Linked DNA regions of Homo sapiens. The protein of the gene in region 4 purifies or fractionates together with the protein of the main gene of each other region. This does not show direct contact. Each region holds a gene or a part of one and is shown on either strand. Other genes may lie near its edges.

The links.
Region 1: the proteins of QNG1 (region 4) and PPIAL4G purify together in Homo sapiens (affinity purification with mass spectrometry; one large-scale study listed by BioGRID and IntAct). This does not show direct contact.
Region 2: the proteins of QNG1 (region 4) and RFESD fractionate together in Homo sapiens (co-fractionation; one large-scale study listed by BioGRID). This does not show direct contact.
Region 3: the proteins of QNG1 (region 4) and DPYD fractionate together in Homo sapiens (co-fractionation; one large-scale study listed by BioGRID). This does not show direct contact.

Annotation. Positions count from the first base shown.
Region 1 is NC_000001.11:148,482,036-148,484,839, forward strand, and holds PPIAL4G (peptidyl-prolyl cis-trans isomerase A-like 4G), read right to left. Parts: upstream 1,268-2,804; 5' UTR 1,218-1,267; coding exon 723-1,217; 3' UTR 513-722; downstream 1-512. UniProt on the Homo sapiens protein: PPIases accelerate the folding of proteins. It catalyzes the cis-trans isomerization of proline imidic peptide bonds in oligopeptides.
Region 2 is NC_000005.10:95,653,221-95,656,969, forward strand, and holds part of RFESD (Rieske domain-containing protein), read left to right. Parts: intron 1-840; coding exon 841-1,016; intron 1,017-1,112; coding exon 1,113-1,147; intron 1,148-2,110; exon of another isoform or gene 2,111-2,275; intron 2,276-2,728; exon of another isoform or gene 2,729-2,825; coding exon 2,826-3,089; 3' UTR 3,090-3,749.
Region 3 is NC_000001.11:97,914,319-97,918,067, forward strand, and holds part of DPYD (dihydropyrimidine dehydrogenase [NADP(+)]), read right to left. Parts: intron 1-3,749.
Region 4 is NC_000009.12:83,946,726-83,950,474, forward strand, and holds part of QNG1 (queuosine 5'-phosphate N-glycosylase/hydrolase), read right to left. Parts: intron 1-3,749.

The DNA.
Region 1 (2,804 bases), on a different chromosome or scaffold from region 4:
ACAATACAAGAGAAACAATGTGTTTGGATGTCAAGGCTCTCCTTTCTGCAAGTGGCCAGCAGGTCACTATTGGCATCTATGGCCATGTGCCCTCAGCTAACACCTCTGCTAGTCAGGGTTTTGCCTTGTGAGATGACCAAATATTCATTCCTGACAGAGAAATGTCCTTGATAATCTTTTTGTGTGAGCGTGCCATGGTCATTGTTAATTTCTTTCATTTAACAAAATAATAGACTTTATTTTTTGAGCAGTTTTAGCTTTATGGAAAGATCGAGCAGAAAGTACAGAGTTCTCACATACTGTCACCTTTATCCCACCCCCAGTTTACATTAGGGTTCACTCTTTGTGTGGTACAGGTCTAGGAGTTTTGCAAAACGCATAATGTCATGTACCCATCATTACATTATTACCAACGTATTTTCAATCCCCTAAAAATCGCCTGTTTCAGAACTATTTATCTCCCTACCCATCCCCAAACTCCTGGCAACCACTGAGCTTTTTTGTTGTTGTTGTTGTTACTTAGTTTTTATTTCATAATCATAAACTTAACTCTGCAATCCAGCTAGGCATGGAAGGGAACAAGGAAAACATGGAACCCAAAGGGAACTGCAGCAAGAGCACAAAGATTCTAGGATATTGCAAGCAAATGTGGTGGAGGGGTGCTCTCCTGAGCTACAGAAGGAATGGGTCTGGTGGTGAAAATAAAACACAAGTCAAACTCATTAGAATTGTCCACAGTCAGCAATGGTGATCTTCTTGCTGGTCTTGCTATTCCTGTACCCAAAGTGCTCCATGGCTTCCACAATATTCACACGTTCTTTCACCTTGCCAAAGGCCACATGCTTGCCATCCAACCACTCAGTCTTGGCAGTGCAGATGAAAAACTGGGAACCATTTGTGTTGGGTCCAGCATTTGCCATGGACAAGATGCCAGAACCTGTATGCTTTCGGATGAGGTTCTCATCATCAAATTTCTCCCCATAGATGGACTTGTCACCGGTGCCATTAGGGTGTGTGAAGTCACCACCCTGACACATAAACCCTGGAATAATTCTGTGAAAGCAGGAACCCTTATAACGAAATCCTTTCTCTCCAGTGCTCAGAGCACGAAAGTTTTCTGCTGTCTTTGGAATCTTGTCTGCAAACTGTTTGATGGAGATGCGGCCCAAGGGCTTGCCGTCGACGGTGATGTCAAAAAAGATGACGGAGTTGACCATGGCTGATAGTACAGGGCTCACAGCGATGGCGGCGTCTGCAAAGATAACCACTGATCTTTTTACTGTCTTTATAGTTTGGCCTTTTCTAGAATGTCGTATAGTTGAAATCACAGTATGTACCCTTTTCAGACTGGCTTCTTTCACTTAGCAAAATGTCTTTGTTTTTTCTGTATCTTTTTGTGGCTTGATAGTTTTTTCCTTTTAGCACTGAATAATATTCCACTGTAGGAATATACCACAGTTTGCTTATGCAGTCACTCATTGAAGGACATCTTGGTTGCTTCCAAGTTGTGGCAGTCTTCATTTCTTTCTTTCTTTCTTTCTTTCTTTCTTTCTTTCTTTCTTTCTTTCTTTCTTTCTTCTTTTTTTTTTTTTTTTTTTTTGAGACAGAGTCTTGCTCTGTCACCCAGGCTGGAGTGAAGTGGCACAATCTCAGCTCATTGCAACCTCTGCCTCCCAGGTTCAAGTGATTCTCTTCCTCAGCCTCTGGAGTAGCTGGGATTACAGGTGTGCACCACCACGCCTGGTTAGTCTTCAGGAATATTTACAGGACTGTATAGAATTAGGAGCCATCAAAGGGGATCCCTGAATTCTTTCTGTTTTTCTTACAAATACCAGTTTTAAGGTCAAGATTTACTACCCCATGCAACAGTGTAGCCGCATTTTAAATTTTAAATTTTTGACTGTTTCTTTAAAGGTCTCAGGCAACCTAAAAGGCTAGATAGAAGTCTCTCATCCTCTAACGAAGGATGGATTGTAAAATGGAATACTGCTAAGACTCTCCCTTTGGGTACTAATTCTGCAAAAACCTAGAATCTCAGAGACAAGAGATAAGTATTTGGAGTGGATCATTAGATGTAATGACAAAAGGAGTCACTTCAACATTCATAACAAATATCAAAGATTGTTGTATTTTTTATATGGGAGACACCAGACAAGCTTATACTTAGTTACTAGTTCAGAGGATACACCACCACATCCTCTAGCATGAGTACAACCTTATAAGCCATTGTCTCCAGCTGGCACTGTGATTGAGTCTTTAATAAAATATTCACCATTCTATAATAATAATAATTTTGGTTAGTGATAGGATAAATGGTGGACCAGGTGAGTCCAATGAATATCTACTCATTTGTTATACAACAAGTTCTTTTAATAGAAGGATGTAGAACAGGATATTATGGCAGTATATATAAGGCATTCAATGTACCCGTGGAGAGTGGCGATCAGAGAAAAATGATGTCAGGTAAAGCAAATGTAATTCAAGGATAAAGGTAGATTCCATTTACAAAATTCCTTGTTGCCTTTATCATAGAGGAGCTCCAATAAAATCAACAAGTCTGACAAAAGGTGACTGGTTTATTCACCCAGGATATGTTATTGTGTGCTTAGCCTTGGACTTTGTTGCTTGTGTGTTGGACACCTAATAGTCTTGACAGCTAAATAGGCTTTTGTAAGCGAGAGTGGTAAAGTCCAACATGTTGCTAAACCTATGTGTATTCTCTACTGCTACCACCAATGTTGCTGTTTATTAGCCTTCTGAGCAAGCAATGTAGTGCCTGGTGAAAGAGATTGTTTCATACCTTC
Region 2 (3,749 bases), on a different chromosome or scaffold from region 4:
AAATGAAAGGTTTTCATTCATACCCACCTTCTCTTGCTGTAATAGCTATCTGGTTGTGCCTGTAAGAGCCAACTGTGTACTCCAGGCAAAACCAAGTGGACCACCTTAGCCAAGAGGCTGAAGACTATTCAGACAATCAAAGAATCCTGCTTTCAGCAGAAGGCTGAAAACAATGCAGATAACTGAATGTTGTTTAGTGTTGAATTTGATAGGAAATAAAGGGATAGTGAAACTTAAATCTCTATGTTTTACAAGTTCTGAAATTTCCTTCTTGACCTTGAAATGAATCTAATACAACTCTAGCCTCAGATTGAGGAATCCTCCCTAATTTTGGCAGTCTTTAAGAGTCTCTAACGCAAAGTAATGACTACCTACTTAATATAATCCAGTATTTATGGCCGGGCGCAGTGGCTCACGCCTGTAATCCCAGCACTTTGGGAGACTGAGGTGGGTGGATTACTTGAGGTCAGGAGTTTGAGACCAGCCTGGCCAACACAGAGAAACCTGTCTCTACTAAAAATACAAAAATTAGCCAGGTGTGGTGGTGGGCTCCTGTAATCGCAGCTACTCGGGAGGCCAAGGCAGGAGAATCCCTTGAACCTGGGAGGCGGAGGTTGCAGTGAGCTGAGATCGTGCTACTGCACTCCAGCCTGGGTGACAGAGTGAGACTCTGTCTCAAAATAATAATAATCTAGTATTTATAAATGTTTTATATAGCTACAGAAAGTGCCTCCATTAATCTTGAAAAGTCCGAACTATTCATTCTTAGGGTTATCTCCATTAAGCTGGAACCAAATTAGTGAATACTTCTTGTAACTTTCCTTCTTTATGTTCAACTAGCATGAATCTTGATGGCTCTGCACAAGATCCTGAAAAGAGGGAATATTCTTCTGTGTGTGTGGGCAGAGAAGATGACATTAAAAAATCTGAAAGAATGACAGCTGTTGTCCATGATAGAGAAGTGGTCATTTTCTACCACAAGGGAGAATATCATGCTATGGATATTCGCTGTTACCGTAAGATTTTATTTTTCATTTGTAAAACTTTAAACCATGAAACTATCAAAATTTCAGTTTTTTAGTGACTGCAGGTAATATTCAATTCCTTTTCAGACTCAGGAGGACCTTTACATTTGGGAGATATAGAGGTATGTAAAATTAAATTTATTTTCAGCAAATTCAGCAAATAAATATATTCAAAAATAATTTATAATTGGTTTGAACTATATTTTAATGCTTTGAATATAATTCCAAGTATTCTGGGAATTCATAAGATAAATGAGAAATATGCTTATCTTTTGACCTAGCAATTATACTCTATATCTATTCTATGGCCATAATTGCACGGATGTTTAAGTATTTGTATAGGAATGATTCATTGTAGCATTATTTATTATAATGAATAATTGAAGGCAACCTAAATGTTTTAACAATCGGAAACTGGTTAAATAAATTATGATACAGCCATGCTGTGGAATAACTGTACCATGCAATCATTAAATTAATAAGGCAGATCTATATGGGTATGGAGAGATGTGAACAATGTATTTGTGACTGAAAAAAGCACGTCATAGGATGATAATAGTCTTATGAGATCTCTTTTTTCATCAAAAAGAATATTCACTTTTTACTGTATACACTGTGCATAATTTGAATTTTTAAAATGAGTATATATTATTTTTATAATATAACAAAAATATACAGTATAAATATATTTTTAAAGAAATAAACCACACTGTAGTCTTAACTGAGGAGGAACGGGGGAAGTTGTCTTTGCTTCCTTGGATTCCAAAACTAGTCACCTAATTTCTTGTTTCTTCATGAAATTGGTCTCTCTCTCTCTAACCGATGCAAAGTACAAGCTTGAACTTAGCATTCCACTCTCTCTACACTTGATGAGTGTACACACCTGTCCTCATGTTAAAGAACGTATGTGTGTTTATTTTTTCTATTTTTTCCCATTGTCCAAACCCACATATGTGAATCTTTGCTGACAGTTTTATGTAATGTAAATTATGAAAATGTGAATCTTTGCTGACAGTTTTATGAAAGTACAAATCAGTATTCCTGCACTTTTGGATATAGAGGGGAAAATGAAAGCACCCACTTACATGTGTGAGCTGATAATAGTTCCATAGAATTTTCTCCAGTTTCAGTCCATAATGAGAGCTTGAAGACCTTGCTCCTCAAACTGTTGTCCATAGACCAGCAACTTTGGTGTCACATGGGAGCTTCTTAGACATGCAGAATCTTGTCACCCCAACCCCTTAGACCTACTACATTTAAACAGAGAGACATGCATTGAAACAAGATCCAGGTGCTTCCTATGTTTTTTAAAGTTTGAGAAGCACTTCACCAAGACAGTTAAAAAGTTGAGAATTAACTACTTTGGATCACAAATTGCTCTTCTATTATCATATGCACTCATGCCTTTAGTAACTCCTTTTGAATTTATATCTGAACCTTACAGTTCTTCTAGAAGCTAGTGAAAATTCCTATAGAAGCACTTGAAGTCCTTGCCCCATTTCTGTCAAGGAGGCGACATTAACATCTAATAGATAACAGCACAGCTGCAGTCACATGGTTTAGTTGCCTGAGCATGTCAGTCTTCTGATAGAGCTCTAACTGGCTTTCTAATCAACTGTAAAAGAGCTTGATGACTCTTCTCAGATTAGGATCTGCTTTATGCTGAATAATTTGTACATAGGAGGAAAAAAAGAAAAGCTAACCTGTTTTTTTAACCTGGTTCTTCTGCAGCAGACTCTTCAGAGTCTATCAAGAACATTTGACATGTCAGAATATTAAATGAGTTATTCTCTTCCCCAGGATTTTGATGGACGACCGTGTATAGTTTGCCCCTGGCATAAATACAAAATTACTTTGGCAACAGGAGAAGGTCTGTACCAGTCTATAAACCCTAAAGATCCATCAGCAAAACCCAAGTGGTGCTCCAAAGGAATAAAGCAAAGGATTCACACAGTGACAGTAGACAACGGAAATATTTATGTGACTCTTTCTAATGAACCTTTTAAGTGTGACTCTGATTTTTATGCCACTGGAGACTTCAAAGTAATTAAGAGTTCTTCCTGATAAAAAATATATAGAAATGAAAAATGTTGTGTATGCTTGAAAACATTTTTAGAATAACTCTGCTTCAGTTTTAAAGGTGATGAAATTTTTCAACATAGGCACAACTGTTTAAAATTCACATACATTTGAGAGGTTTAAGAGCACACATACTTAGTATGATGTAAGGATTATCATCAGGATCAATAGAATACATTTTATCGAATCTTCTGGATTAATTAGAAACCTGAAGGTTATAGGTTTGGGATGTTCTGTTTAAGAAGGATAAAAATAAATTTGGAGTAAACAAATAATAGGTAAAAATTAAGGATTAGTAAGAAAAAATTTTTTAATTTAAAAAATTTAATTTTTAAAATAGGAAAAAATCCCTGTTTGATGTAGCAGACTTAATTCTGGAAAAGTTTTAGTATATACAAAGTAAACAGACTATATAATGAACTTCCATCACTCAGCTTTAACAGTTATCAGCATTCTTCCATTCTTGTTTTATTTATACCTCTGTGGATTTGCTACCTCTCCTATTTGATTGTTATTTTTACATTTTTAGGAAAGTTTAAATACATTGAAATGTTCACCTCTGAACTGTGCAACCTTCCTAAATAACAGACTTTTTATACTTAAAAAATGCCTCCAAAAATGAGATAGGTTTACCTGCTGAACTTG
Region 3 (3,749 bases), on a different chromosome or scaffold from region 4:
AAGTTTAGAAAAAAATTGTTTTTGAAGCTAATATGTTTGCTTAGAAAGAAGATGAGTTTACTCCAGTTAGCACATGGAAATACAAGGGTTTGTTTTAATTATGTAGGAATTTCTTTTCAGAAAAAAATTAATGTCAAATGCCTTCTACATTTCTATGAGAATGCCAAAAAATAATTTTCACCTATGCATTAGCCCTGATCTAGTCTCAAAAACACTCAGAAAAACACAGAAGAATCAATCCATATGTATGTTGCAGTAAAAAAAGGATGGGGCTAGCCTGGATTTGAATCTTATTAACCTACGTAATAGATGTGAATAGTCATGTATAAACAAAACCTAGGCCATATACTTCCTTTGTACCATCTGAAACTTACACCAGTGGGCTCGCAGTACAACAGGTACTAAAAACATATTTTTAGACAGAAATGAAATGAAATGGGTCTCTTTAAATTGATCTGAATTTCAGAAACTCCCCAATCTCCCTCATAATATTGACAAATGTTAATTCAGTAACTTTTTCACAATAGATATATGCAACATTTATAAATCTATAATGCACCTCTTTCATAATCTTTTAACTTCATTAACTCCTCCCTTTCTCATAGATTCTAACAGACTTCAATACCACTAGTTGATTACTAGAGCAAAAACAAATTCTTGCCAATTGATGTTTATATAATGTACATGATAGACGCAGTAATAACATTTAAAATAAGTGTAACCAATTAAAAAAGCATATATTTATGTGACAAATGCTGTCTGAAGCATTTTGTGTATGTGACTCCAATTAATCCTTATAGCTATTGCATGAAATACATAGGATTAAATTCAATTCACAGAAGAAGAAATGGCAGTCCAAGAAAGAAGCTGACCACAGTCACACAAATAAAATAAAATAGTGCCAGGATTCTAACCCAGGTCTGTTTAAATACAATGTTTTCTTTTTGTACTAACCATGAAAGGAAGCTTGATTTGGGGAGATACAAAATAAATAACTTCATATAAAAGTACTTAATTCCTCAATACATATAAATATATATGTATTCATGGTGAACTGGCTAAAAGTTATATGTTGAGTTTGAATGCAGATGTTTCATATGTACTAGTGTAACATTTTAATTAAAAGCAATGGAAGCAGTAATAATTATAAACCACAGGAAAGACATAATCCTATTAAGAGTTATCTCAGTAGTATAATTGGCTCCAGGATATCAGTGAACACCCACATGACTGATATTTGAGGCCAAAAACACCTTCTGTCTTGATATGGAGGATTATGAGCAAATGAAGTCCAGAAGGTAAATATGTCACATTTTAAAATCAAAGTCCCAATTATAGATAAAGGTGTAATCTTACAATGCCTTATTAAATATTTTTAATTAAGGTGGAATATAAACAAAATAAAATTTTCTTTACAGTTTTAAGGACTGAAGGGCTCTGCAACATATTTGTCATGCATTCATACAGCTGAGAGGCAGAAAAATAAATTGGCCAATCCTCCATTTTGATCTCCTCTTTAGCTGTATTGAAGCCTGGATTATATCAAATCTCATCAGATTTTCTTTGTCATGATATTTTACGACAATCTTTTTTCAGTCTCATTGTCTTCTAGTTTTAGTGTTCCAAACTATTACTTACATTTACGCTAATTATTAGAATTCTCCCACAGTGATCAGACATCTTTATTTTACTAGGGGTTCCAGCTTTCAGCCCTTGTGTTGTTGCCAGTTTATACAGAGTTTGGTAAGATGCTGTATTCAAATAGTTAAAGAAAGGTATGATTGCTTAAAGATCTTCCATAACTGAATCAGTATTTTGACTCTAGATCTTCTTAGTGTCCTTATCAATTCCTTACTGTTAATATTCATCTTTTTTTATTATTATACTTTAAGTTTTAGGGTACATGTGTACAACGTGCAGGTTAGTTACATATATATACATGTGCCATGTTGGTGTGCTGCACCCAGTAACTCGTCATTTAACATTAGGTATATCTCCAAATGCTATCCCTCCTCCCGACCCCACAACAGGCCCCGGTGTGTGATGTTCCCCTTCCTGTGTTCATGTGTTCTTATTGCTCAATTCCCACCTATGAGTGAGAACATGCGGTGTTTGGTTTTTTGTCCTTGTGATAGTTTGCTGAGAATGATGGTTTCCAGCTTCATCCATGTCCCTACAAAGGATATGAACTCATAATCTTTTTAAAAGTGAATTTTTCTTCTAGAATGTAACAAAGGAGGCTACCAAATTCCAGCACACTTTACAATTAAGCAATCAGTCAACACCATTTGCTATCATTAAGATTAAGCAGATCCAATCTAAAAATCACCCTCCATCAAGATCCATCATTAGTCATTAATCTCCCAGATTTTAATTAAACTACCAAAACTATTCATCTGAATTCATATGCAAAGGATAGAATTTTTCTTTAAACTGCCCACAACTTTGGTGGGCCAAGCTGAAAGGTTCGCTTGAGCCCAAGAGTACAAGGCCAGCCCGGGCAATATACTGAGACCCCCATCTCTATTTTAAAAAACTGCACTGAAACACATATCAACACACTCAACTACAGAAATATGCAGTACCTTAAAACTACAGGAAGCTACCATTAGAATCAGTGACTCCTCAAATCAGATAATCAGACACATTTCTACTATCCAGCTAAACTCCTTAGAAAGGAGAAACACTTTAAAGTAAAACTATGGCCCACAAAACAGCTTAAAGTAGGAAGTACAAGCATGTTTTCAACAACTCTAACTCACAAAATAGTTTTAAAAAGTTAAAGCTTTAAAAGTCTTAATTTATTTAAGAATATATTTCCAAAAGATCTGCAGTGCCCAGTCAATAAAAGGAAGGAGAAAAGAAATGACTGATGCTTACACATTCAGTAAAAATATATCCATTTAAATCAATAAACAACTCATGGCTTTGTATAAAGTGGAATCTTTATTATCTTTTTTGGATCCATGATTCTCCTTCCTCCCCAGCAGCAAAGGCAATTATGATAAAAGATGTTCTGAAAATTTTTTTGCCATCTCTGCCAATTTATAACCCATGACTTTCCTTGTTTCAAAATTTGTAAAGTCCACTTTCTCCAAGTCTTTCCCATTATGCTTCTATTTTCCAAATTCGCTATTTTTAATCTCATTTTCCTAGTTAATCATACAGAAAATTCCCAATTACCTTTTCAAATGAATAGAAGTCACAGTATCAGTAATTCCGAAACCATTTCTGTTTGACTTAAAATGCATTTGATTTTGTGGACAATGGACTAAAATCCCTTTTTCATTTAGGGTAAATGTGAATTAAGTTTATAACCCTTTAACATTCACTAACTGATCATTCAAGGAATGGGCCTTGTGATTGTGACTGTGGTAGCAGTACAGTAACAGATAGCAACTTGGTTTGGCTACAAATATATATCAAAAGTACTAGTATTCAAATAGTTAAAAGCTTGCTGCAGCTGCATACATTTCGTTTAGATATATATACTTTCAAAGTCTATTCTCATTATCCTTGCCGGTGGAGGGGAACAAGGTCTTGAACAAAAGAGTACTGTTTCAAAATAATTCTCATTTCCTTTCAAGTGTGCAGATATTCACAATATACTGGCTGTAAATTCAATCTAAATGAAGAAGTGCTGTTAAGTTACTGCTGAGGCCTGGGAAAGTGACCAATGTCCAATACTAACCTTCTTTGAAACCATCCCAGGAGAGTTTGTATTAAAGTCATCGTTGACAAAATTCAGA
Region 4 (3,749 bases):
CACGGCGAAACCCTGTCTCTACAACCACCACACCTGGCTAATTTTCATATTTCAGTAGAGATGGGGTTTCACCATGTTGGCCAGACTGGTCTCAAACTCCTGACCTCAGGCGATCCGTGTGCCTTGGCCTCTCAAAGTGCTGGGATTACAGGCATGAGCCACCATGCCTGGCCTACAAATTTTTTTTTTTTTTTAATTAGCCAGGCGTGGTGGCACGTGCCTGTAGTCTCAGCTACTCACCAGGCTGAGGCAGGGGGTTTGCTTGAGCCTGTGAGGTAGAGGCTGCAGTGAGCTGTGATCACATCACTAAACTCCATCCTGGGCAACTGAGACTCTATCTCAAAAAACAACACCCCAAAAACACTCTGTAAATCTACAAATGCAAATCAGCCTAGATTATGGAAAAACATAGATAATTACAATCAACTACTAGTCCTAATACCAATAGTAATAACCTTAAATAATGTTTTATAAATGTTTATCAATATTACTAGCTCCCAAAATATATCCTGACCACCTTGGAGGAGAATATTTTAACTTGTAAATGACATAAACAAATAAATACGAGATTAAAAGTTTAAGGAAAGGCTCTATATAAAAATTCCTTAAGATGACACTACAGATTCTTTTATTTACTAAGAAAATGCCAATGATACCCTGTCATAACAAGAAATAACCTAATATTGCTTAACCTTAAGATATGCCTATTGTAACAGATCCAGACCTATTTTTATTATACTAAATAAATTAAAACTTCTAAAGCTACATTTAAGAAAGTCAGAATTTGCCTCTCCCTCTCCCTCGTCTCCCACTTTCCAGGGTCTCCCTCTGATGCCGAGGGGAGGCTGGACCGTACTGCCGCCATCTCGGCTCACTGCAACCTCCCTGCCTGATTCTCCTGCCTCAGACTGCCAAGTGCCTGGGATTGCAGGCGCTCGCCGCCACGCCTGACTGGTTTTTGTATTTTTTGGTGGAGATGGGGTTTCGCCGTGTTGGCCGGGCTGGTCTCCAGCTCCTGACCGCGAGTGATCTGCCCGCCTGGGCCTCCCGAGGTGCCGGGATTGCAGACAGAGGCTCGCTCACTCAGTGCTCAATGTTGCCCAGGCTAGAGTGCAGTAGCGTGATCTCGACTCACTACAACCTCCACCTCCCAGCCGCCTGCCTTGGCCTCTCAAAGTGCTGAGATTGCAGCCTCTGCCCGGCCGCCACCCCGTATGGGAAGTGAGGAGCGTCTCTGCCTGGCCGCCCATCGTCTGGGATGTGAGGAGCCCCTCTGCCCGGCCGCCCAGTCTGGGAAGTGAGGAGCGCCTCTTCCCGGCTGCCATCCCATCTAAGAAGTGAGGAGCGTCTCTGCCCGGCTGCCCATCGTCTGAGATGTGGGGAGCGCCTCTGCCCCGCCGCCCCGTCTGGGATGTGAGGAGCGCCTCTGTCCGGCCGCGACCCCGTCTGGGAACTGAGGAGTGTCTCTGCCCGACCGCCACCCCGTCTGGGAGGTGAGGAGCGTTTCTGGCCGGCCGCCCCGTCTGAGAAGTGAGGAGCCCCTCCGCCCAGCAGCCGCCCCGCCTGGGAAGTGAGGAGCCCCTCCGCCCGGCAGCCGCCCCGTCTGGGAAGTGAGGAGGGTCTCCGCCCGGCAGCCGCCCCGTCCAGGAGGGAGGTGGGGGTCAGCCCCCAGCCCGGCAGCCGCCCCGTCCGGGAGGGAGGTGGGGGGCAGCCCCCCCGCCCGGCCAGCCGCCCCGTCGGGGAGGGAGGTGGGGGGCGCCTCCGCCCGGCCACCGCCCTGTCCGGGAGGGGGGGGGCGCCTCTGCCTGGCCGCCCCGTCTGGGAAGTGAGGAGCCCTTCTGCCCGGCCGCCACCACGTCTGGGAGGCATGCCCAACAGCTCATTGAGAGCGGGCCATGATGACGATGGCGGTTTTGTCGAATAGAAAGGGGGGAAATGTGGGGAAAGGAAAGAGGGATCGGATTGTTACTGTGTCCGTGTAGAAAGAAGTAGACATAGGAGACTCCATTTTGTTATGTACTAAGAAAAATTCTTCTGCCTTGGGATGCTGTTAATCTATAAACTTACCCCCAACCCCGTGCTCTCTGAAACATGTGCTGGGTCCACTCAGGGTTAAATGGATAAAGGGCGGTGCAAGATGTGCTTTGTTAAACAGATGCTTGAAGGCAGCATGCTCCTTAAGAGTCATCACCACTCCCTAATCTCAAGTACCCAGGGACACAAACACTGCGGAAGGCCGCAGGGTCCTCTGCCTAGGAAAACCAGAGACCCTTGTTCACATGTTTATCTGCTGACCTTCCCTCCACTATTGTCGATGACCCTGCCAAATCCCCCTCTCCAAGACACACCCAAGAATGATCAATAAATACTAAAAAAAAAAAAAAAAGTCAGAATTTGTTTTCCAGAGCAAGTATACATTCTCATTTTCTGAGAAAATGGTGTAATGTCTCTAAATTAAATTAAGGGGCTGAAGGAACAAATCACAATTTAAAACATTCCTACATTATGCTATCACCCTATATTCCTAAACCTATCTAAATATGACAACTTGGCAATTGTTCCTCTATATAAACTGGATTTATATATGGCAACCAGGTTTCTAGTTCAAGTCTAGTTTATAAAACAACACAAGACATGGCTGGGTGCAGTGGCTCATGCCTGTAATCCCAGCACTTTGGGAGGCCGAGGCGGGTGGATCACCTGAGGTTGGGAGTTTGAAACCAGCCTGACCAACATAGAGAAACCCCGTCTCTACTAAAAAAAATACAAAATTAGCCGGGCATGGTGGCACATGCCTGTAATCCCAGCTACTCGGGAGGCTGAGGCAGGAGAATCACTTGAACCCGGGAGGCCGAAGTTGTGATGAGCCGAGTTCACGCCATTGCACTCCAGCCTCGGCAACAAGAATGAAACTCTGTCTCAAGGGAAAAACAAAAACAAACAAAAAAAAAACCCAGCAAGACATAAGACTTAACTTATAAAAATGTCTATTAAACACAATTACTACACCATCAAGTTTATTATAATAGATAGAAGCCATTATCTGCTATTTTTAACAAGATTCATAGAGCAAAATGGAAAAAACTAGAAATCAAACTTACATAGCAACCCACATGGAAAAAAACAAAAAATAAAAATAAAATCAGTGCTAGCATCTAAGAAAACATGTAAATTATCATGTCACTGCTGTTTCCATGGTAGCAGACTAGTATATATAAAGAATAGATTATAATAGATATAATAATATATTAATATAAAAAAGAACAAAAAGATTTAAGGGAGGAATCAAAAATAAATTCAAGTAATCTGTAAAACATTTTCCTATTTTTTTTTTTTTTTTTGGAGACGGAGTCTTGCTCTGTTGCCCAGGCTGGAGTGCAATGGTGCAATCTCGGCTCACTGCAACCTCTGCCTCCCGGGTTCAGGCCATTCTCCTGCCTTAGCCTCCCGAGTAGCTGGGATTACAGATGGGCGCCAACACGCCTGGCTAATTTTTGTATTTTTAGTAGAGACGGGGTTTCACCACGTGTGCCAGGCTGGTCTTGAACTCCTGACCTTGTGATCCACCTGCCTCGGCCTCCCAAAGTGCAAGGATTACAGGTATGAGCCACCACGCCTGGCCATCTCTATAAAACATTTTCTTGGTAAGCTCATTATGGTTTTAGAAATCAAATGATTTTTGTAATCAAATTCTGGATCTCTAAAATATTAACTGGTATCACTAAAACTACTAGTAAATCTCCAAATAA